Linked DNA regions of Homo sapiens: all the other regions are linked to region 1. The links come from fine-mapping of genetic effects on gene expression. A gene starts in region 1. Each other region holds a variant in brackets. All regions are shown on one strand. Distances are between the middles of the regions.

Evidence for each region. PIP is the estimated chance that this variant, and not a neighbour inherited with it, causes the effect.
Region 2: its variant is the best candidate, but not a certain one, in a credible set for the expression of LINC03033 in whole blood (INTERVAL, PIP 0.61).
Region 3: its variant is the best candidate, but not a certain one, in a credible set for the expression of LINC03033 in whole blood (TOPMed, PIP 0.72).
Region 4: its variant is the best candidate, but not a certain one, in a credible set for the expression of LINC03033 in lung (TOPMed, PIP 0.76).

What each region holds. Positions count from the first base shown.
Region 1 is chr14:61,567,959-61,573,705 of GRCh38, reverse strand. It overlaps LINC03033 (long intergenic non-protein coding RNA 3033), which reads right to left and starts at 3,166. Exons shown (of 3, transcript NR_039985.1): 1 at 2,946-3,166. It overlaps LINC01303 (long intergenic non-protein coding RNA 1303), which reads left to right and starts at 3,053. Exons shown (of 5, transcript NR_110416.1): 1 at 3,053-3,220; 2 at 4,029-4,162. RefSeq lists silencers at 3,876-4,068, 4,809-4,968, 5,049-5,118 and enhancers at 4,460-4,959, 4,960-5,461.
Region 2 is chr14:61,640,686-61,646,432 of GRCh38, reverse strand. All of the region lies in intron 1 of LINC03033 (long intergenic non-protein coding RNA 3033), which reads right to left. Among named protein-coding and RNA genes, the nearest start is that of HIF1A, 52 kb to the left of the region's middle. The variant G/C (reference allele first, on the strand shown) is at 2,476.
Region 3 is chr14:61,651,193-61,656,939 of GRCh38, reverse strand. It overlaps LINC03033 (long intergenic non-protein coding RNA 3033), which reads right to left. Exons shown (of 3, transcript NR_039985.1): 3 at 2,227-3,317. Among named protein-coding and RNA genes, the nearest start is that of HIF1A, 41 kb to the left of the region's middle. The variant T/AT (reference allele first, on the strand shown) is at 2,346.
Region 4 is chr14:61,536,602-61,542,348 of GRCh38, reverse strand. All of the region lies in intron 12 of PRKCH (protein kinase C eta), which reads right to left. PRKCH-AS2 (PRKCH antisense RNA 2) reads left to right here. Exons shown (of 3, transcript NR_188139.1): 3 at 4,443-5,747. Among named protein-coding and RNA genes, the nearest start is that of PRKCH-AS2, 6.0 kb to the left of the region's middle. RefSeq lists an enhancer at 3,851-5,050. The variant G/T (reference allele first, on the strand shown) is at 2,180.

The DNA of each region.
Region 1 (5,747 bases):
GTCAGCCTGCCTGGGCATGGGGACCCAAAGGTTATAATTTTAAGGATTTCTTCCTTGGGAGTGGAGGCAAAATGCTGATAGTAATAGAGTGGCCCAGATTCAAATGCCTGAACGGTGAGTTTTACCAGGGCCCCCACGCCATTCAGTAAGCTCTCTGGGATTTTCAGTGGGCCTGGGGAGGTATAACTCACTTTGGCTCAGAGCTCTGAAAGCAGAACTTGGGTGGTTTATTAGAATATACAATGGAAGAGTTGGATGAGACCTGAGTAATGATGTTTTTGTTCACCGCTTGTCTCATCAGAGCAATCTTCTGGACACATAAATTTAATGTTCTCATCCTCTGCTTAAAACAGCCTTCCACTGTTCCAAAATAAAAGCCAAAGTCTTCAAAACTGTGTGCACATGTGATCCAGCCCCTGCCTACCTCTTTATATCTTGGTTTTCCTCGTCCCCTTTAATCCAGCCACAAGGACTTTACTCCAGTTCCTCCAATGAACTAACTCTTTGTATCCTGGGCACTCTCTAACCCCTCTTCACTTTTTTTTTTTTTTTTTTTTGAGACAGAGTCTCACTCTGTCGCCTAGGCTGGAGTGCAGTGGTGCGATCTTGGCTCACCGAAACCTCCGCCTCCTGGGTTCAAGCAGTTCTCCTGCCTCAGCCTCCCAAGTAGCTGGGATTACAGGCACCCTGCCACCACACCCAGCTAATTTTTCTGTATTTTTAGTAGACATGATGTTTCACCATGTTGGCCAGGATGGTTTCGAACTCTTGACCTCAAGTGATCCATCTGCCTCGGCCTCCCAAAGTGCTAAGATTACAGGTGTGAGCCACTGCACCTGGCCCCCTCTGTACTTTTTAATTTTTATTCTTCTTTCAACGCTCAGCTCAAATGTCACTTCCCCTAAGAAGCGTTCCCTGAGGCTTCCCCTCCCCATACACGTTAGATCAGATAAAGCTCTTGTAATATTCTTGTAGAACATCCTATTCTTTTGCTTCAGGGCCTTTATCACAATTGATAATTATATACTTACTTTTACTTATTGAATTAATTCCCAGTCTCTCTCAGTAGATTACATGCAGTGTCTGTTTCACTTGCCATTGTATCTCTAATGCCTACTACAAGTGCCTGGCATGTAGCAGACACAACTGCTTGTGAATGAATGAATGGTCTCAGTGATTCTGTAAGGATGAAGGTGATGTAGAGTAGTAGATGGCAGCTCTACTCTGGAAGTCCAGAATACTGCTCTGATTCACACCTGCAAGCCTTATTGGTCAATGACTACTGATATTCCAGCCACCCAAACAACTGCTTTCGGAGAAGCATTAATACCTGCGAATAAAACAAATCTATTCGTTTCATACATTTGGTTCAGAACACTAGGAGAATTTGAGAAGAGACGAGCCAGCCCCAAGCTGTCCTTGTTTCTTTTATTAAGAATAGGCCATGATTTGAGCACATTCTACTACTTGCCTCACTTCAGCCTATTGATGGGGGAAAAGTGAGAGTCTGTGTGTGGGGACTCTGGCTTGGCAGTGAGATCTAACACAGAAAGATCCTGAAGAAATATGCTGACAATGGGGTTTTATCTCTTCAATGCACTGGAGACAAAATCCCTGCTTTTAAAAACAACACTCATACAGAGCCAAGGATGTCCCAGAGTGAACAGTCCTAACCCTTTCTCAGCCTGCCTAAGAGCTCGTTGGTTTCAGAAGGATGAGCCAAGGACTGCTACTTAGAGACTACTGTCTAGGTCAACCCAACTGGCATAAGTAAAGCACCTACTGTTTATAGTAGGAGGCTGCAAGATAACAGGAGATGCAGACTATTGAAGGCTACTGATCTATCTGTGTAGACAGGCAAGAATAAAACAACTGGAGAAGAAATCCAGGATTACACAAAAAGAAGAGCGTGATGGTATGGTAGACTACTCCAGAACAGTGAATTTCCCCTGCATTAAGGATGAGATCCCTATGAATTGGGATCATTCAGGAAGTCTTCTTGGAGAAGAAAAGTTTGAGCATATGGGGAAAAAAAGTTGGATTGGCAAAGAGCTGAGCTGTCAGTAGCTGGGTCCTTAGTAAGTAGGCTGCATGGAGCTGGGAGTTATGCTAAAGGAGTTGTAATTTGGGATGCCTCTAATTAACCATTTTGGGAAAAATATAATAAATCCCTTTGTAGCATCTATAATAAACTGCCCAATATCTATGTGGTGGGGAAAAAGTTTTATTCTACGTTTCACGTGGATGGTGATAACACTAGGTAATCTCAGCATCTTTCTTATTCTCTTGCTAATCCAGGATTCTAAGTAATAATCACTTTGTTCTACAACCTGAATCTAGCCCTTGTACTGTGCAGTTTTTTTCTACACTTATTTTTCCTGTTGTCTGAATCAATCTCCATGGAAGCATAAGTTTTACTGAGTTTCAACCAGCTGTGTCCACCGAGGTAAAGATGGTAAAAATAAAAGGCACAGGGCATATATACCACAGCAGCAGTTACTTCCCACAAGGAACCAGAGATTGGAAGTGAAGCTAAAACATTTTCAGCTACGATAGCATCTCTTTCAAGGTGAGCCATTTCCCCAGGGAGAGTTTCCAGCTCTTAGCAAAGGCAGAACAATAAAACATCAAGGATGTCTTTCTAAGGCTGCAAACAGAATAGCCAATACCTTGAAGCTGATCTGCTTCAGAGTCCTTTAAAAGCCAGGACAGCAACAAAGTGCCCACATTACATTTTCTACAAGCTTGCTAAGCATCTCTTTTCCTAAACCACAAAACCCGAGACATTTCTACAGAACAGGCAGAAAGGGAAGTCCTGGGAGATCAGGGCCCTGTCTCAGCAGGCATCACTCCAGCCTGTCTTTTCCCGAGTGGTTTTCTGCACTTCTCTTCCATCTTTTCCCCTCTGTCCCACACTGGAAGTCACTAGTCTGTGCCCTCCTTACCTCCCATGGTTTCTGCACCTTCATTTCCAAAGGCAAGTGAAAACAGTGCCAGGCTGCGCACATGGGTTACTCCAGGGACTTCTCTTCCCGTTTCCCCTAAAGCATTTGACAGTTAGATCTTGGAACTGAGTCCAGCAGCACTGAGGTCAGAGAGATGGCTAAAGCTAAAAGCAAACTGGATGCTGTTCAGGAGGTTCTCCTTTGTCATTTTTATCTCCAAATAGAAGACCTCTGTTTTCCCAGAAGATTAAATAGTAGAAAAGAAGTAGCCCAAGGTGGGTGACTCTGCAAACAGGTGGGTGAGGTCTCTAGTTGAGTGAGGGGGTGTCTGTGGGTTGTGGGTTCTTCTTATGAGCAGAGCTTGGAGGAATTTGTTCTATTTGTTGTGGTTTTCCCAGGGGGAAGTCGGGGGTGGCTGGGACTCTAATGATCATTATCAGAAGACTTTGGATTAGGCCTCTGAAACTTTAAGATGTGGATCCTCTCGCAATCATGTTAAAATGCAGATCTCCTTTCAATAGGTCTGGGACAGAGCCTGGCTTTTCTATAAAGCTTCTGGTGATGGGATGTCGCTGGTTCTCAGCCACAATTTGAGTAGCAAGAGGTTAGCTTTTCTACTTACTGCCTTCATATCCCCAGTTGGGCTATGTCGTTTTATCAAAACAATGTGGTAAGAGTGAGCGCCAATTACTAGCCTGTTGAATCATCCATTGTTAGAGCTGTTTCTTTGAGGTACATTTAAGAGGCCCCTCCCTGTGGTTCCCCATTGCACAAGAAGCCCATTTGCCAGGCAATACCTTGGGCAAGCAAGCCACTGTGCAAAATTGCATTGGCTCTTCCTGCTGCCAGCCAGGCGGCTGCTGGTTGACGTTGGAGTTGTACAGTTTATGTGATAGTGATGACAGCGCTGGCTCTGAAGGGTACTGAAGATTTTGAAGGGGTACTTCGCTGCAGCAGCTTCACCTCTCACTTTTGTTTACCCACCCCCGAGGCTTGTGGGAGAGAAGGATCAGGCAGAGCTCTGCACGTGCCATGCCAGGGGTGGAGGAATTATATTTTTATTTTTTGCTTTCTCTGCTACAGGACATACCATGCCTTTTACAGATATTTATAGGACAATTTCCCTCCTGAGAGTGCCCAAGCATGGGGGATGGTGAGGAAGATGACTGAAGGAGAAAGCAGGAAAAGGGGGTGTCTGCATGTATGAGGATTGGAAGGTGGGGAAAACCCTTCGTGTTTGGTTCAGCCTTCAAGAAAGAGGAGGGGTTGACTAGATTACAGATGTTAAACCAGGGGTCTGTGGTTCAAACCAGCAACTCTCTGCCCTTGTAAGCTGTATCTGGCTGGTGTGTTAATTTGTCTAGGGTAAGAGCCCCTAGGTTTCAACAGATTGTCCTAGAGTCAATGATACACAAAAGGTTAATCAGCCTCATTTCCAATCAGGATCATCTGCAAGTCCCTCCCAGAGCAGATATTTGGAGCACTAGGCTTCTAGAAGCAGCAGACATCAAGTTCGGGCCATGGGATTAGGGTGGACAGGGCAGCCACTTGGAATCATTTTCTACCAGAGGCAGAAGAGGCTCAGCTAGCAACAGCCCCATTTTACAGAGCAGAAGCCGAGCTGCAGTCAATTCAGTGATTCCTCCTAAAGTAGGGAGTCAGAAGCCGAGCCTGGACTGGAACCTCGGCCTCCTAGCACACAGAGCACAGGTCTACATTGGGGAAAAGCCCCTTCAATCTGGCAGTTGCCTGGAAAGCGCAAGACATTTGCGGCCAGAGCGCCAGGAGCCCAGCTGGTTATTTCTAGCTTCCTGAATGTCAAAAATACAGGCCGCTTCTCAAAGCAGCCTCCACTTGTCAGACCAAATCAAGGCATCAGCGCGTCAAGCAGGCGAATCCTCTGCCCCAGGCACCAGCCTGGGGGCGCACGCCCTGCCTCCGCCCCGCCCCACACGGCGCACCTGACCGGTTCCCGCGGTGCGCCTAACCGCGGGCGGGCGAGCGCTGCACCCACGCACCCGGGCGTCGCTCCCACCTGCACCCCGGCGTCACGCCTGAGCGCAATCTGCAGCCTTCACCCACCTGGGCGGCTGCCTGGCTTTGTTTAGAGTTGGAGTCAGCCCGGCAGCCTGCCTTGGCCGAGTGTGACTAGGGAGCTGGTCTCTGACCCTAGCGGCAGATTGGGCAGGACACACTGCCTTCTCTCTGGTCTCTTTTGGAATCTCCCACTTTCACCTGCTTTTCTTCTTAGCAAAACTGCCACCCCTGCCCCTACCCCAATTCCTCGATAGATCTAAATCAACGGGCTTGTTTGTGCCTCTGCAGAACCAATCCAGTTTTACAGGAACAAAAACAAACCCCAGTCCTGAGCGTCTGTTGGTTTCCCGTCCCAACTTCTGTTCATTCAACAAACATGGGAGCATCTACTGGCTAGGCTTTGGACACAACAGACTGAACTCTACCCCAGGGAACTGGCAGCCCCCAGGGGAAAAGAGAAGCGGATGTTTTTAGGCTGTAATTTAACGGTCGCAGGAGAGTTTGCTAGGGAACATGGGGGCAGGGAATGAGCATTGCAGGCAGAGAGGACAGGCTGGTGAAAGAACACCGCAGGCGGTAGGATCTGCAGGAAGGCAGGGTGGCCGGTGGGCACAGAGAGATGAGGGCAAGTAGCAGTGATGGGCTGAGGAGGAGCCAGGACTCAGCCAGAGAAAGGAGAATTGACTTCATCCTGAGAACAATGCAGGGCCTTGGAAGGTTTAAACAGGGAAGTGACCAATCCAATTTGCTTTCTTAGTGGGACTG
Region 2 (5,747 bases), 73 kb before region 1:
TTATCCAACTGATCATGGCTAGAGTATAGTTTGGAAACCATTTATAAATAAAACTACATTCTAGTCACAACAATTTAATAATATAAATATATAGAGAAATTTAAATATACAAACATTTCAAGTAAATGCTAATTGTGACCTAATGTCTTTACTAGAGAAGAATAATATGAAAATTCATCTAGTGTTCTGTTTATAACTCTAATGCAAAAGATAGTTCTCTATTAGTTGAGTCAAATGTTTGTATCTCGATTACAGGCATCAGAACTTTGAGGTCTTTACTGACCTACACTCCTATCAAGACAAAAAAAAAGGAAGAAGTGTGGCATTTATTTGTCCATTAGTTCATTCATTCATTCTGCAAATATTCAGCATTTACCTTGTACGTGGCATTGAATTTGGCCCGAAGAACAGATAACCTAATGGTGTTTGGAGAATTGAAATAGTTATACTGCAAGTAATCTAATTGATTAAATCTTCTTATTTAAAGTTGAAGACTGAGGCAAATTAAAGCAGCCAAACAATTTTGGCTAGTTTTACCCATGCACTCTCGTTATGTCCATACCCACCTTCCACTAAACTTCTCTTGTCATTCTTCCCTATTTTCTAACCATTATTATAACTCCAACAGATATATTGTCATTTGCATTTATATACAATTAAGTTGGTCAATGATCCTAATCCATTCACTTCAACTACATAAGTACAATGTTAGTGAAATAAATGTGTCATTTAAAAATGAGGTCTGATCATACCATAAGACAGGGCAAAAAGGAAAATAAAGAAAATGAGGTCTAAGGTTAAAATATTTCATTAAAAAACATCAAAACTGAACACAGAAATGATCACAATAGAAGCAGACAGCCATTCCTTAGAACCTCTTTCTACTGTCTATTTCCTGAAATGGTTTTTCTCTAGTTTATTTCATTTTGTATCACAGATGACTATTTGGTTTAGTGTGTCTAATTCCTCTGCAATTAGATTTGCAGAACATATTACTTCATTTTAATAAAAAGTTTTTGAATCACAGCCAAATTGCTGTAGGACAAGCAGATTTTGTTTTCTTACAATTTCATTAGTAAAAAAAAAATGAGGATACCAATATTGAAATGTCACAAATATGGAATTTTAAGTCAAACATCTGTGTTCCCTTAAAGGAGAATATCTTTTCTGAAGCTTGGGAGCCTCCATTAGTGAACAAATTAGTTAAACAGACATTTGCAATGAAAAAAAAAAATCCCATCAGTTTTGTTGAATTATTTTTGTTTTATTATGGGTTTATTTCATTATTAAAAGTAGAAAAAATGCATAAAATAATAGAAGAATAAGAAATAAAACAATTACTTGAGGCTGTACTAGGCAAATGATTCTGATGTGCTTCACTGAACACAGGATGTAACCTGAGCCCCTGTCCCTGGCTTGACAGAGCATCTGTTTCTCACAGATGCCTGAAAAACACCCTGCTCCTCTAGATGCTGGGGCGCTTTTCTGAGCATTGCATTACCTTTATCAAAGAGTGCAAACACGTATTCTATTTGTAAGGGATGGATGAATGTAGATGGTTGTGTTGTGCATACCATCTATATCCTTCTATGTATATATGCTCTTGTACCCAAAAGAAAAGTCACACTTAATTCATGGTCCATGGCTGTACAAACAACAAGAAATACCACATCTAGTACTGCAAAAAAGCAAGTGGAAGAACCAGTATCTCTTATTTAGATATACTGTAGTAGTAAAAGAGAACATACCCAGTACAAAGGAAGGGGCATCTGCTTTTCTTAGTTCTGGGGATTGCTATGTTTAATAACTTCAGAGGAACACTGATGAGGTGGAAGGCAAGTGCATGTCTCTTTTTTCCCCCTACTGCATACAGAGCCCTGGTACAGAGCACTCAGTGGATGCTCATAAATATTTGTTGAGTGAATGAAAGGAGAACAACTAGAATTGTGATGCATTTCTAAAACAGGACTAAAACAGGCCATGTGGTTAAAGTAAATGAAGATACTTAGCCAGAGAGGAGGAGACTTAGGGAGCACAACAGTTCTCTTTGTATTTGAAATAAATTTTCACATAGAGGAAGGGCTAGACTCACTCTGAGTGACCTAGGGAACAAAATAAGCAACTGTATAAAGAGGAACATGAAATTAGAGCTGCCCCAAATGGAAGAGTAACCACTGGAATAACTCTTGTTAACCATTCTAATTCTTACCTAGTTTCTACATCTTCCTGTCACCAAAGTTGCTCATTCATTCACCCATTCATTCAAAAACACATATTTACATGGGTGAACACATCTCCAAACTCATCAAACTGTATACATTAAATATGTACAGCTTTTTGTATGACAATCATATCTCAATAAAGTAGTTTTAACAACAGCCACCACCACCAAAAGTCCCCCCAAAAAATACATATTGAGAACCTTCATGCTTACAGGTACTCTATCAGGTTCTGGGGAAATAACTGTGAACCCAA[G/C]AAACGTGGCCTCTTTTCTCATTCAGTTTATAAGCTGGTGAAGGAAACAGACAAGACAGTCAGACAAATCCTTTACAAATGATCATGCAACTTTGGTTTCAGTAAAGTCAGTTGCTTAAATCAAAGTTGCATGATCATTTGTAAAGGATACCAAAAAGGGAAATCCTGAATCATGTGTAAGGGCTAGACAGGATGATCTCACTAGTCTTTCCAACTGTTGAGATTCCTAGGATACTATGCTTTCTCCCTGCATTCTCATCTCAGTAAGTTGTCCCGTGATGACACCCAGAAGTCATTATGTTCAACCTCATCCTCCTCATCTCTACTTTCAAGTCACTAGTGACTCCTGATCATTCTAATTCTAGTTCCCACGCTCATCACAAGGTTGTCCTCATGGTGGCTGGCTGACACCTCCTGAGTCCGCATCTCCGGTCTAGTAGTGTGCAACTCATAAAGTGCAGCACTCCATGAGATCCTAATGCAGTTGGTTTGCTGATCATAGGTTCAGAAATAAGATTCTTCTGTGTGATGGGTTGAATGGTGGTCCCCACACAGATATATCCATGTCCAAATCCCTGGAAACTGTGAATGCTACCTTACTTGGAAAAAGTCTCTGCAGATGTAATTAAGGATCTTGAGATGAGATCTTCCTGGATTCCCCAGTGGGCCTTAACTCCAGTCCCAAGTGTCCCTCTAAGAGACAGAAGAGGACACAACAAACACACAGAGGAGAAGGCAATATGAAGATGGAGTCAGAGAATGAATGGATGTGGCCACGAGCCAAGGAAGCCAAGGACTGGCAATAGCCACCAGAGGCTTGAAAAGGCAAGGAAGGATTCTCCCCTGTAGCCTCCAGGAGGAGTGTGATGATACCTTGATTTCAGACTTCTGGTCTCTATAATGATGAGAAAATAATTTTTCTGTTGTTTTAAGCCTCTTAGTTTGTGGCAATTTGTTTAGAAGCCCTAAAATACTAACCCATTATGCCTCCCACCATCCAATACAAACAGTTCATCACAGTGCTATCAGGGGGATCTTGCTAAACGTGAATCTGACCAACATATACTCCCGCTTTAAACCCCTTGTCTCTCTGCAACCCGTAGGCAGCACTCCCTTTCCTTGCCATGATGCCATGAAAGACTGTTCACTTGTATGACACACTTCCCTCGGGGGACACAGGTGATGCTCAACTCATAGCATGATGAAGTCAATGCCTCTGTCCCTCCCACTCAAGAATTCATATGAGAATGGAACTGATGAAACTTTTACAGGGATAGATACTCTAATTTAATTTAAACAAAATAAAAACAGAAAAGAAATCATCTTCAGTCTGCTCCTGCTGTTAGGTTACTTGGAACACACCTCCATGCATCGTGCTCCACTGACTGCTGCCCTGCCTTCCTCTCCAGCTGCCTCCTAGAGCACGTTTTGCTTCAGCAGTGCTGACTCACATTTAGTGCCTAGGACACATGGTAGTCATTTGTGTGTCTTTGCCTTTGCACGTCTTGTTCCCTTTGCTTGGAATGCCCTTCCCACACATAGCCACCTCACAAACTCCTATTCATCTCATAAAGCCAAATTCGTATTCCATTTACTCCAGGAAGCCTTTTTGCCCACTTACATTTTGATCATTCCCTTTCTTATGCAACGATCTTACTGTTTATAAAATATAAAGTTTTATTTTATTACATCATATTGTAATTCTTTGTTTATGTATCCATTTCTTTGAAAGCCAGGCCATATTAAACTCATTTTATTCAGCCTTAAAGAAAAGAAAAAAAGAAGAATGGGTGTGGATGGGTGTGGAGGACATGCTGAGTGAAATATGCCAGACACAGAAAGAAAAATATTGCATGATCTCACGTATATGTGGATTAGTTTTAAAAAGAGGTCTCATATACAGAAACAGTGAGTAAAATAGTGGTTACTATGGGCAAGGGGAGGAGAGGAAATGCAGTGATATGGGTCAAAGGATATAAAGTAGCAGATATAAACAAATCTAGAAATCTAATGTATAACATGAGGACTATAGTCAATAAAACTTACATTAGGGGTCAGGTGCGGGGCTCACCCAGCACTTTGGGAGGCCGAGGTGGGTGGATACTTGAGGCCAGGAGATCGAGACCAGCCTGCCCAACATGGTGAAACCCAGTCTCCACTAAAAATACAAAAATTAGCTGGGCTGTAATCCCACCTACTTGAGAGGCTGAGGCACAAGAATCATTTGAACCCGGGAGGTGAGGTTGCAGTGAGCTAAGATCGCACTATTGCACTCCAGCCTGGGCGATGGAGTGAGACTCTTTCTCAACAAACAAACAAACAAAAAGCTTGTATTAGGGATTTTTGTTAAATAAGTGTATTTTGGCTGCTCTTGTCACACACACACAAAAGCAACTCTGTGAGATGATAGATATGTTAATCTGCTTTATCACAGAAACCACTTTCCTGTCTATGTGTACCATAACATCATGTTATAAACCTCAAATGTACACAAGAAAATTTATTTTTAAAAAGATGAATAAACTCATCTTGGTATTCTGAGTGCTTAGCATATAGAAGAAACCCATCACCATTCTATTGAATGATATTGATCCAGAATTTATGCTCTGGAATTGGTGAGCATGTTTGAGGATTCTGATACTTTTTTTTGCAATAAAAATAACATGAATATTAATATTTAATGAAAATTTTCATGATTTTAGGAGACAGGCTTGTGAGAGGTTTGTAGAGAAGGTGAAAAAAATGCATTCATTCCTTGGGGAACTCAATTATTAGGCAGCCACACTGGGTTTCATAGAAATGATTTGAGAACTGGAAACATAATGATCTCCTTCATCCAGTTCTGGTGATAAAATTGAAAGGGGATATTTTTATTCTCCACAAGGAGAAACACAAGTAGTTTTGAGAACAAGCCAGCATTTTGTCTTCACTTGCACCTGCAGATGTGTCCCGCACCCGGGTCCTTCTAAGGTGCCACCTGCCAATGCCTCTTCACACAGCTTTCTCAGCCCTGCCAGCATAGTCCCTTTTCTTCAGCAACAGAGAAGGGCATTGTGGCTCAGGGTTCCCTTGGGAATGGGTGTTTGGAATAAAAATAACGCCACAATACCATTTCCACAAGTGCTCTACATGGCTTTAAAGAAAGCCTCTTGGTAAAAGTGTTTCCATCCCTGTCCTGAAGCTGGGATTCTGCCTGAGCTATTTTCGGCCTTGTTTCCAGTTGCCGCTGGCCAGTGGCAGGATTTCACACTCGGCTGCCACATCTCATTACT
Region 3 (5,747 bases), 83 kb before region 1:
GGCAAATTAAGAAACAACTGAGAGCTGGGCGTGGTGGCTCAGGCCTGTAATCCCAGCACTTTGGGAGGCTGAGGTGGGTGGATTACCTGAGGTCAGAAGTTCAAGACCAGCCTGGTCAATGTAGTGAAACCTTGCCTCTGCAAAACATACAAAAAATTAGCCAGGTGTGGTGGTGGCCACCTGTAATCCCAGCTACTCGGGAGGCTGAGGCAGGAGAATAGCTTGAACCCAGGAGGCGGAGGTTGCAGTGAACTGAAGTCGCACCATTGCACTCCAGCCTGGGCGACAGAGCGATACTCTGTCAAAACAAACAAACAAACAAAAAAAGAGAAACAACTAGGGGAAAAACCAGTAAAACTACCTAGATGATATCAATGGGAAATCACTGCCAGAATCTATGTGGTTAACAGGCAGGATATAGCTCTATGACCAGTCCTTGTACTAACAATGATACCTGTTATTTCTTCTGAACAGAATCTGAATTAAAGCTCTCAAAAAGCAGCCATTTTACTTGAAGGTGGGAGTATCACTGACTAGTGATCCAGATTAATTTATAGCTAGATTAACTAGGTTGTGATCATCTTAGAAAGCAGGAATAAGTCTCTAATAGGTTTGGATTCATCTTTAGGGTGTTCAGGTATAGGTGGGATGGATTAGAACTGTGTTTCCCAAACTTAAGTCACTTGCCAATTACTTTTATGATTTTTGCCACTTCTGATCATGTACCACTTTTTGACATTTCTTATGTCATATTTTTCTTTAAGATGATTTAATTTGAAACTTAAATACATTTGTTTTAAAAAAGACTTTATCACTCCTGTAAACAGGAAACCAGCATAACTTGCTATAAACAGAGAGGAATTGTGTGCTGGGTGCGGTGGCTCATGTCTGTAATACCAGCACTTTGGGAAGCCAAGGTGGGAGGATTGCTTGAGCCCGGAAGTATGAGACCAGCCTGGGCAACATAGCAAGACCCCATCTCTACAAAAAGTAAAAAATTAGCTGGAGGTGGTGCTGCATGCCTACAGTCCCAGCTACTTGAGGGGCTGCGGGGGGAGGATCCCACCTCCTGAGTCCAGGAGTTAGAGGCTGCAGTGAGCTGTGATGGTGTCACTGCACTCAGCCTGGGCAACAGAGTGAGACCCTATATCAAAAAAGAAAAGATAGTAATTGTGAAAATAAAAAAAATAAAAACCAACGTTATTATATTTTAGTTAAATACCATCCTCTCAGAAGGCTGTGATCCCAAAGTCTGCTGTCTTTTTGTTGAAAAATAGAGTAGTGAACACCAGAAGTGTTAAGTATGTGCTAATATCAAACTAAGACTCTTCTCCTGAGTCAATCAAAAGAACTGAAGAAAACTGGAAAAGGAAAAACCTGTCTCCCTCCATGTCGTCTCCTGCTGTTCTCCGCTGCCTCATCCCGGGCTAGCTCCAGGGTCCTCTGTGCTGTTCTGTTCCGCCAATTCACTGACTCCACTCCTGTCTCATTACCTTCACACTTGTGGTTTCCTCCTACCAGATAGATAAGTTTTCCCCCAGATCCTTACAGAGTTCCATCGCTCACTGGTCTCTACTCAAAGGCTGTTTCTACTTTTCTTTTCTTACTTTCTTTCTTTCTTTTTTTTTTTGTTTTTTGAGACGGGGTCTGGCTCTGTTGACCAGGCTCGAGTGCAGTGGTGCAATCTCAGCTTACTGCAACCTCTGCCTCCTGGGTTCAAGCGATTCTCCTGCCTCAGCCTCTGGTGTAGCTGGATTACAGGTGCCTGCCACCATACCCGGCTAATTTTTGTATTTTTAGTAGAGACGGGGTTTCACCATGTTGGTCAGGCTGGTCTCGAACTCCTGACCTCAGGTGATCCGCCTGCCTCAGCCTCCCAAAGTGCTGGGATTACAGGCATGAGCCACTGCCCCCGGCCAAATGCTGCTTTTTCTGATAGGTGTTCCCTGACTGACCACAGTCAGTAAAATAGCTCCTCCATTCATTCATTCATTCATTCATTCATTTATTCATTCTGGGTGAACTTCCATTGCAGTCCATCTATTTGGCTTCCTTCCTTGTCTTACCCTGTTTTTTTCTGAATGGCAGGATTCTCTTTGCTATACAGCCAATCAAAAAATATAATTTATTCTTCTCCTGTTAGTTAAATAATATTGTTTGGTTTATAGGTAGGGTTAATTTTTATTTAAAAAACATGTAGGTGTAAAAATTACAGAAGAATATACAAAACACTTTAACCATTTAATCTTCAGGTAGTAGGAGTTGTGGTGATTTTTATTTCCTTTGTTATACTTTTCTGAATTGACTGATTTTATTCCCAGTAAATTCAGTTTAAGATGACAAAA[T/AT]CTCTGTTTTTTGTAGTTATAAACTTGTACTAGTCATAAACATGTGCTAGCTCCAAGTGAAAAAATTAGTGCTGTTCAACATAAATTCTCAGGATATTATACTCGAGAGCCAGTAGGAATAAGGGCAAAGAAACAAGCGTTAAGGCAAGTAAATTAGATGATGAGAGAAAACCTAGTCTACAAAGTTACCATTTAAATCTTGAACTCCGGACAGCTATTTCATAAATGGTTTTCTTTGGTCATACAAGGTGACCATGGGTCATATAAGGTAATGTTAAAATCACAAGTCAGGGTTTCTGTCTGACTGCTGGTGGGTCAGATATCTTCCCCTCCCATGAAAGAAAAGTCATTCTTTAGTGTTAATAATCTTGTCATGTCTGTAGAAATGAGCACTTCCTCTTCCACCACCAAGCTCCCCACCCCAAATTCTGCTTGGGACATTATACTGCAGGCTAATGATCTAAACAAAATTAAGATTCATTAAATTAACAATTCCATTGTTCCTAATTAAGATTTTACTTTGCACTTAAGATATTGAACCATACATAGCCCTGTGTATATTTTTAATGCAAGCAAATATTAATGAAGCAAATTTGTCATTTTCATTTGTGTATTTTGGACAAAGGTTTGTTTATACTCAGTGAAATGATAATTTTTTCTGGTAATTTCTCCTTTTCCCAGCAAAGAATGCTTAATCTCCTTTCTGAAAATGATTTGATTTGGGCAGCAAATCCTACGTTGAGAATTCTTCCCAGATCTCAAGTTATATAACTGAACAGATGGTATTCGCATGGCTTTGACAGGTCAGGCTGCTATCACAGGACATCCTGAGGAAGCAGCTCGGAAGCCTTCCCGAGGAGAGTGGGAAGATCCCGTGAGCAAGCAGGCACGTGTGGCTGTGGGATTGGGTGAAGAACTGCACTCTGACTCAGCTTCCCATCTTCATGGCCCAGGAGCAAATTCCTCAGGATCCTGAAAGAGGTACAAATAATCCTGCAGAAACTAGTGGTACATTTGATTGAATCAGAAAAATAAACAAATCTTTCCTGTGGGAGAAAACAAAGTCTCTCAGGGAATGTGATACAGGAAGAGTGATTTGGTTTGTGGTCATGGTTGAAGTGCCACAGGTAGATGGACAGTGAATTGGATGTGTTCTAATTGTACCTTGGGCTTGCAGCATGATGGGGCAAAAATGGGAAAAATATCCCTGTCTTCACAGAGTTTGCAGCTTATTGGGAGAGAAAAAAATCACTCAGTCAATAAATACATGAACAAACACACACATGAGAGTGATAAGTGCCAAGGAGAAAAAAAAATGCTGAGAAGGGGGATACAGAGATATGTGTATAAAATTTTAGATAGAAATCCTCTTTTAAAAAAGATGTCATTTGAGTAAAGAAAGACCTGAAGGAAATGAGAGAGAAAACCATGTATATAGCAGGGAAAGAGAACTCCAGTAAGCAGAAACAGCCAATGCAAACGCCCTGAGCCAGGGAAATGCCCGGAGTGTCCAGGGACCCATAAAAATCCCCATGCGGCTAACGCAGAGCACACTGGGGAAGCAGTGTGCAAGATGAGGTTTGAAAGCCAGTGTGAGGTCAGATCATACAGAGTCTTGAAGTTCACAGCCTGGAATTGCCTTTTCATCTAAGTGAGATGGAAAACAGGAGGGTCTGGAGCAGACAAATGACATAATTTGGATTATTGTTTACTGGGATCGCTCTTTGTAGGAAATAGGTTGTGGGGCAGCAAGGGCAGAGGCAAGGGGCAGGGCAGTGAGGGGCAGGGAAGAAGCATCTAGAAGGCTATTGAGATAATTCAGGCAAGAGAGGAAGGTGGATTGGACCAGGATGGTGGCAGTCTAAGCAGCAAGAAGTGGGTAAATTCTGGATATATTTTGAAGGTAGAATCAACAGGTCTGGTTAATGGATTAGATGCATTGTATGAGAAAAAAAAAGAGAAGTTTAGGGTTATTCCAAAGTTTGGGGGCTACACAACTGGAAGGATGGAGTAGATCTGAGAAGCTTAATAAGAAGGAGGAGAATGTGGGAAGGGCAGGTTTGGAGGATATCAGGACATCTGTTTGGAATATATTATGTTTGAGATGTTGAGTGGGCAATTGAATGCACAAGTCTGATGTGCCAAGGAGAGATTTGGGCTGAAAATATAAATGAGACAGTCATCAGTACAGACAGGGCATTTAAAGCCATGAGGCTCCATGAGTTCACCTAGTGATGGATACTGTGTACAGAAACCAAAAGAATATGCAGAGAGTGATATTCTGTATGGAATGCTGCTGGTAAGTACAATGAGGCAAGCTGAGCATTGGGTTTAGCCATATGCAAGTCATCATTGATCTTTATAAGAGCAGCTTTTTAGAATCTAGGGCAAAAGGTTTGCTGGACTGGGTTCAAGAGAGAATGCAGACATTGGACACAGCGAGCAAAGACACTCCATTCAAAAACATTTGCTTTACAGGGAAGAGGAGAGATAGTGGTAGTTGGATGGGAAGACGGGATCAAGAGAGGATTTAAAAATTTTTTTAATTGAAGAACTATATATATGGTAAAGATGCTTACTGCTTGTGTATCGCTCTATAATTTTCACAACCAAACACACCCAAGTAACTAGTACTCATTTCAAGAAAAATAATAGTGCTAGTCCCCAAGAAGTCTCCTGCCTCCTCCCTCTCAATCACTGTCCCCACCCAAGGGCAACAACTATCTTGAACTGACTTCTAAAACCCAATTCATTTTCCCACTTTTGTACTTTGCATAAATGAAATCATACAGTTCATGCTCTTCTGCATCTGTTTTTTTTGCCAGTATGTTACATTTGCAATATTCATCTATATTGTTGCCTGTAATTACGGTTTGATCATTCTTATTGCTATATAATAATCTATTGTGTGAGTATACCAAGATTTATTGATCCCTTCTACTGTTGCCAGGCAAATGGGTATTTTCCAGTTTTACAAATAGTGCTACTATGAGCATTCTAGTACATGTCGTTTGGTGAGCATACGTACACACTTTACTGGGTATATTTCTGTGAGTGGAATTGCTGGGGCATAGAGAATGCATATATTCAGGTTTAGTTTTCCAAAATGGCTATATCGATTTATGCTCCCACTAGCACTGTAAGGGAGACTTTATCAGTAATAGAGGTGATATTATAACATCTTCATCTGTTACTCCTTTGTCTTATATCTTAATTTTTTGAGAATTAAGGGGATGAAGAGGGGTAGTGATTACTGGGCCCGCTCAAAATCTTAAGGAAGAGACTGCTGCTCATAGGGTTGTTGTGAGGAGTGACCGACTGTAAAATACCTGGCATCATCCTGGCCCAGGATATGTATCCAGCATATGTTAGTTGTTGCTCTAATTTTGTAGTCACCCTCTC
Region 4 (5,747 bases), 31 kb after region 1:
GACAATCTTAAAACGAGAATACAAACAATAGTTTTTTGTTTGTTTTGTTTTTTTTTGATATGGAGTCTCGCTCTTGCTGTCTAGGCTGGAGTGCAATGGTGCACAATTTTGGCTCACTGCAACCTCCCCCTCCCAGGTTCAAGCAATTCTCCTTCCTCAGCCTCCCGAGTAGCTGGGATTACAGGTGTGCACCACCACGCCCGACTAATTTTTGTATTTTTAGTAGAGACGGGGTTTCACCATGTTGGCCAGCCTGGTTTTGAACTCCTGACCTCAAGTGATCCGCCTGCCTCGGCCTCCCAAAGTGCTGGGATTACAGGTGTGAGCCACCACGCCCGGCCTACAAACAATAGGTTTTAATGTGCAACTATATCTGCATTAACAATAGGACAGAGAAACTAAATGCAGCAAGATGGGTGCAGTGGAGCAGCTTCTTTGCAAATCTGGTGTCAGGTATGGTGCTTATCACATCTTGTGGGCACACAGGAGGCAGCTTCAGTTTTGAGTTGTTGGATGTTCCAGATTATAGAGTTTAACGCTGTGTCATTATGAGTCTTGAAATAACTGGGCCCAAATGTACTTTACTCACTAAAATATAAGTAATGGCCACAAGTATTTTTTTCCTCTTTCAAAATCTGTCTGATTTCATAGGAAGAGGACAAGTTATATAAATAAAGCAATTAGTCTAATAAGATTTTCTTCCAGGAGCCAGAGAACACTGTATTTTCTGCCTAATGGTTGGATGTGGCTGTTGGGCAAACAAAATGACCTTCTCCATTCATTCAATTTCAGACCTTAAACAAAGGGCAGAGAGAGAGTTAGCAGCTAATGCTGGCAAGTTAGAAGGCAAGGAAACTATGCCACAGAACCTTCCTGCCAATATTCCAGAGCGATGATCCTAAATGGGGAAAAGGCATTTAATGGCTCTAGAGAGGGTCCTGGGGAGAAAGGGCAGAGAAAGAGCACAGGACACAGAATAGAGTGCGGTTCACAGCCATGACGCCCAACCTCGCCATGACCATAGACCCTAATGGCCACCTGGGGCTGACGAGAAGCACACCACGCATGCGTGTTGCAGGCGCGTGTCTGTCTGAAGGATGCTGCTGGCACACGCAGATTCTGACCCAGTTATGAAGACCAACCTTCTCCTTTTATACCCCTCCTGCCAGCTGTTGGGGAGATCTGGAGACACCCCGTGCTAGCAGCACCCTCCAGCTCAGGGCAGTGGTCATGCAGGGATGTGGCTGCACAGTATGGGAGAGACACCAGGCTTGGACCTGGCATTGATAAGTCACTTTTCCATAGGAGAAGGCAGTGACAGACATTTAAATGCAAGATGGGGCTGATGACAGTCCACTGGGGGTGGGATGGGGCTTGGTAGGGTGGAAAGGACAGACAACAGACTTCCTGAATCTCTCTGGGGAAACAAACTGTAATCTTCCCAAGTCTAGGTTCTTATACCGAATGGTGCTGCTATGGAATACTGGACGAGCCAAGAGAAGGAGAGGTGCTCTATCCTGCTAAGATTGGATCTGGATGGAATTTGCTGGGGAGGGCTGGAACTAGTTACCTGCACACTCATGGCAATGGACCACCCTGCCAGGTATCCAGACTGGTTTGAGAAGGGGGAAGCTGCAGGAGTGGAGAGAGTAGAGAATGATACCGTTTGATACAAGTTACAGCTTAAGAAGTGGTAGCCATTACTACCATATATGTATGCTGCATACTCCTTTGTTGCATAGGCATTAAGTGTTCCAAATTCATTGGATATAATCCTTAAAGCAACTGTGGTTATTATTCCTAATTTAAAGATTAGGAAACTGAGAAACAGACCCATCTGTAACCTGTCACACAGTTTGGGAGTGCTACAGTCAGGATTTGAACTCAGGCCTTTGCTCTCAGTCCCTACGCTAGACTTCCCCTTGAGGCTACCAATCTTCTTATTTGGATTCTGGGTTAAGATACTTGGACCGACAGGTGAGGAGAATCATTACACAGTTTACTTTACTTTCACCTAATAAATGACACTCAGGACTTCATCTGATGAGAATTCACGCACTCTGTGTGTTTCCTTGTGTTGTACTTCTTTGCTGGCTCATGTGACATTCTTTTTCCTCTGATTCTATGGAAGGAGAAGGGCTGAGAAGTACATACAGTGCAGGTGGTAAGTGAAGGGAAA[G/T]AAAAGTAATAGGGCTGGAAAAAATCCGAGGCATCCTTCAGCCTGACACCTGGTTTTATTTCAAACTACTGAGGGTCTTTTTGCTGGAAAAGATAGAAGGACACTTAAAATTTTCAAATACTCAAAGAGCTGTCGGCCAGAAGAGGGATTAGATGAGAAATAATTTCAGGGAGAAATAAGTTCAGGGAGTGGAAGTTAAAGGCAGCATATCTAAATACATCATAAGAAAAACTAAAACACGTAATGTGGTTGTAATACTCAGTACCATTAAGTGATGAGAGTGCTCCCTGGCAGGAACAGCATTGTGTCATTGAAAACACGTGAAGCAGAGCCGGACTGGCCTGTCCGGCGTCAGGTGGGTGGGTGGCCACACCAGTGGCCTCCACAGTCTGTGCCCATATCAAGGGACTCTTTTCTTTCTTCTATTTTTGCATTTATCACTAAAAACTCTGGGAGGAAAAAAAAAAAGCTGGCATTTTGAAGATTGTCCTTCCCTCAGCTACAGATGCTTTGTTTTCCTTGAGTCTGAAATGGGCTTTTCTTTATTAAAAATAAAGTGAAATAAACTTGCTCAAGCTGATCTCCCTGAGCCAGTGATGGAGGAAGTGGGCATGTGGGTATATTTGAGAATGCCGGTGGGTCAGTGCCTTACCTGGCAGGTTGTAACTGACCAGCATCAGAATATTCTGTGCGATATCTCCAGAGACACACTACACAGTGTACTTTATTTTCTCTCGATGAAACTCAGTACACTAAATGCCCTATACTGTTCCTCTAGCGGGCAGGGGCAGTGCTCAAATCCGTGGTGGGTTTGCTGGCTGTGTTTTCCATGCTGTCTGTGACTGGAATCCAGCAGCCCTTCATAAGCACATACTCAATTCCTTTCCAAGGCTCCCAACACCCTGCCTTTCCTGGGTTTTATAATCATTATTGCTTCCTTGTATCTTCTTTCTGGTCATGGGACAATGTTGATTAACCGTAGGTAAAGGTTAGAGGCAAGTCTCGGAGATGGAAACCCAAGGTCATGCAGTTGTGCCAATGCCCGTTGTTAGACAACATGCTTCTATTCCTGACAAACCAGTCTCAAGCAGCTCTGACTGATGGGGCGGATTTCAATGCTCTCCAATGACTTCCAAGTGTTAAGAAAAAGCTGCTGCTACCCTACATGCCCAAGCTATACGAACTACTTTTTTCCAGGTATGATTCCCCAAATGTAGCTACTGAAGAGAAGTGAGTGCTGAACAAAGATTCTCTAGTGGGGACTATACAATGTCCTTTATCCTCCTCTGATGAAATCAAGGCCAGTACCCTTCTTTATCCTGGATGCGCATTATCTTTGGCATCCAAACCAAATCTAATGATCAACTGCCCCAAATTACTGACCTTTGATAGTTGGCAAGGACAAACAAACAAAAAACAACAAAGTCAAATACTTTTGTTGACAAGAGTTTTTCTAACTCGAAACAAAAAGCTTTTCTGACCCACAGACACCGGTTAGCAAATCTCCACACAGGAAAAGTTTCCGTGGTCATTTTACAAAAGCTTTGACATCTTTATCTTCCTGGCAGGGATGGAGATAAATGAGACATGCAGCATGAGTACTCTATTAAAAATACATTTTAAAAAATCCTTTACACTGCTATCAAAATGTAAGGACTTCCAACCTTAGGAAACTTACAATTTAATGAGGGAAAAAGAAGTAGAGATCAAGAACTTTAGTAAAATTATATGACTTAAAAAGACCCAAATACAAAATCTCTGGGAAGAGCAGTGTTTTTCTGTTTTCTGCAGACACTGGCCTTGATCTGTGAGCAAACGGTTCCTTTTCTGAAGGGTGTTAACCTCACTAGGGGTTTTGGTAAGAGGCCTGTGGGGCACCTTCCTTTCCTCAGACAGGTATTCCAGTCCTGGCAACAGTCTGCCAGGTTGCATGTTAACCACTCCTCTTACTCAAGGATCTTTTGATAACTTTCTTTGGATTTCCCCTAACAGTGTTTGAAAAACCAGCCCTAATGATCTGGGGTTGGATCCTCTGCGTTACTCGGGTCCCATTTTTCCCTCCTCTTCCCCAGCCTTCTCCTGGCTGACCACCTTTGCTGGCTTCCTTGAACATTCCAGCCTCTCCCAGGAGGGGAGTAGGGAAATGAACAGGAAGACAGTCAATGCTCCTGGAATTCACTGCCTGGTGACAGATGTGGGACACACTCAGGGCTAAAAGAGGATCCCCGAATTAACTGTGGTTCTCCCTCCTTTGTGCGTACAGGCAAACAGGATTCCTGCAGACAATGCTCGGATGATGAAATCTGAGAGGCTGGATGACAGAGAAACCCACATGCATACACACACACTTTATAAAGCTTAGGAACAAAAGCACTTTATAATCTCCTTCTGATGCCAAGTTTACAGTGCTTCCAGAGTCAACAAAGGTGACTCAGGAGAGTGCACCCAGCTCCTTTCAGCACTTATTTAGCTCAGCCACCTGTGTGAGCTCAAAGACAAGGGTGCCGACTTCACCTGAGTAGACCCTGAGTCACGTGATTTCTTGCTGGAGATGATTCAGCAAAGGAGCACTAACCTCTGAGACAAGGCTTCAGCTTCCTGAGCTCTGCTGACTCGCCTGGGACTTCCCTAAGCCCTTCTGGACCTAGATGAGGGCAAAACTCAGTGGAACCTCAGAAGCCCTAAAAAAATGATAGACTTTCTTTTGTCTCATCATTATCAGCATTTTGGGATGATTTAGTCAGCCTAAGAAACCTGATGGCATGTTGACACCAGAAAACAGGTAGTATATATTCCCAAACCAAGTTAAAAAAAATTAAGAAATAACAGCTGGAATGCCTTTTATTTTTTCTTTACACAAATGTGTGTGTCATCGTCATATGCCTTTTTTGTGTTAATTTCTGAGGATCCTGCCAGTGTGAATACTCCATTCTCTGCGAGTCGCAGGTCAGGCTGCTTTTGAGGCAAGCACACGTTAAGTATTGAGCAGAAACATTTGAAGCAAAGATGAGAAAGACAGAAGGGGAAGCAAGAAAAATAGTCTTCCCAGTGTGCCTATTTGGGTGCATATAAAGTTACTTTTAGATGTGCGATTACTGGTTAATGATTTGGGGAATTCTTTTCAAGTAGAAATCCTGGGCTAAAAACTAAGTGTGCTCAAGCTACCCCCGCACCCACTGATTCTGCACTCCATGGGAAAAGTTCTCACAAGCAAGTCCTTTGTCCACTACCCACGTCTATAGGAAATGTTTGAACAGCTATACACAAAGAACTCACAAGTCCACAACCTCGGGGGTGTTGCGGGTGGAGAGGGCAGTGGTAAAGGTGATGACAGGGAGGGCCTGTGGGGACAGTAATATTAGATTAGTGGTCAGAAGATGCTGGAGCCTGCCTTGCCAGTCACACACTTTTAGAGGAATGCTGGACAGTACACACCCTCCCCAACCCTGAATGTAGGCCCTCGCTGACATCACGCCAGATGAAGCCCTGAGGTCTTTAACATCTGTAACTCTATGGCATGTAACATAAACAGGTGTCTGACCAGTTTCCCCAGATATAGAATAATAAT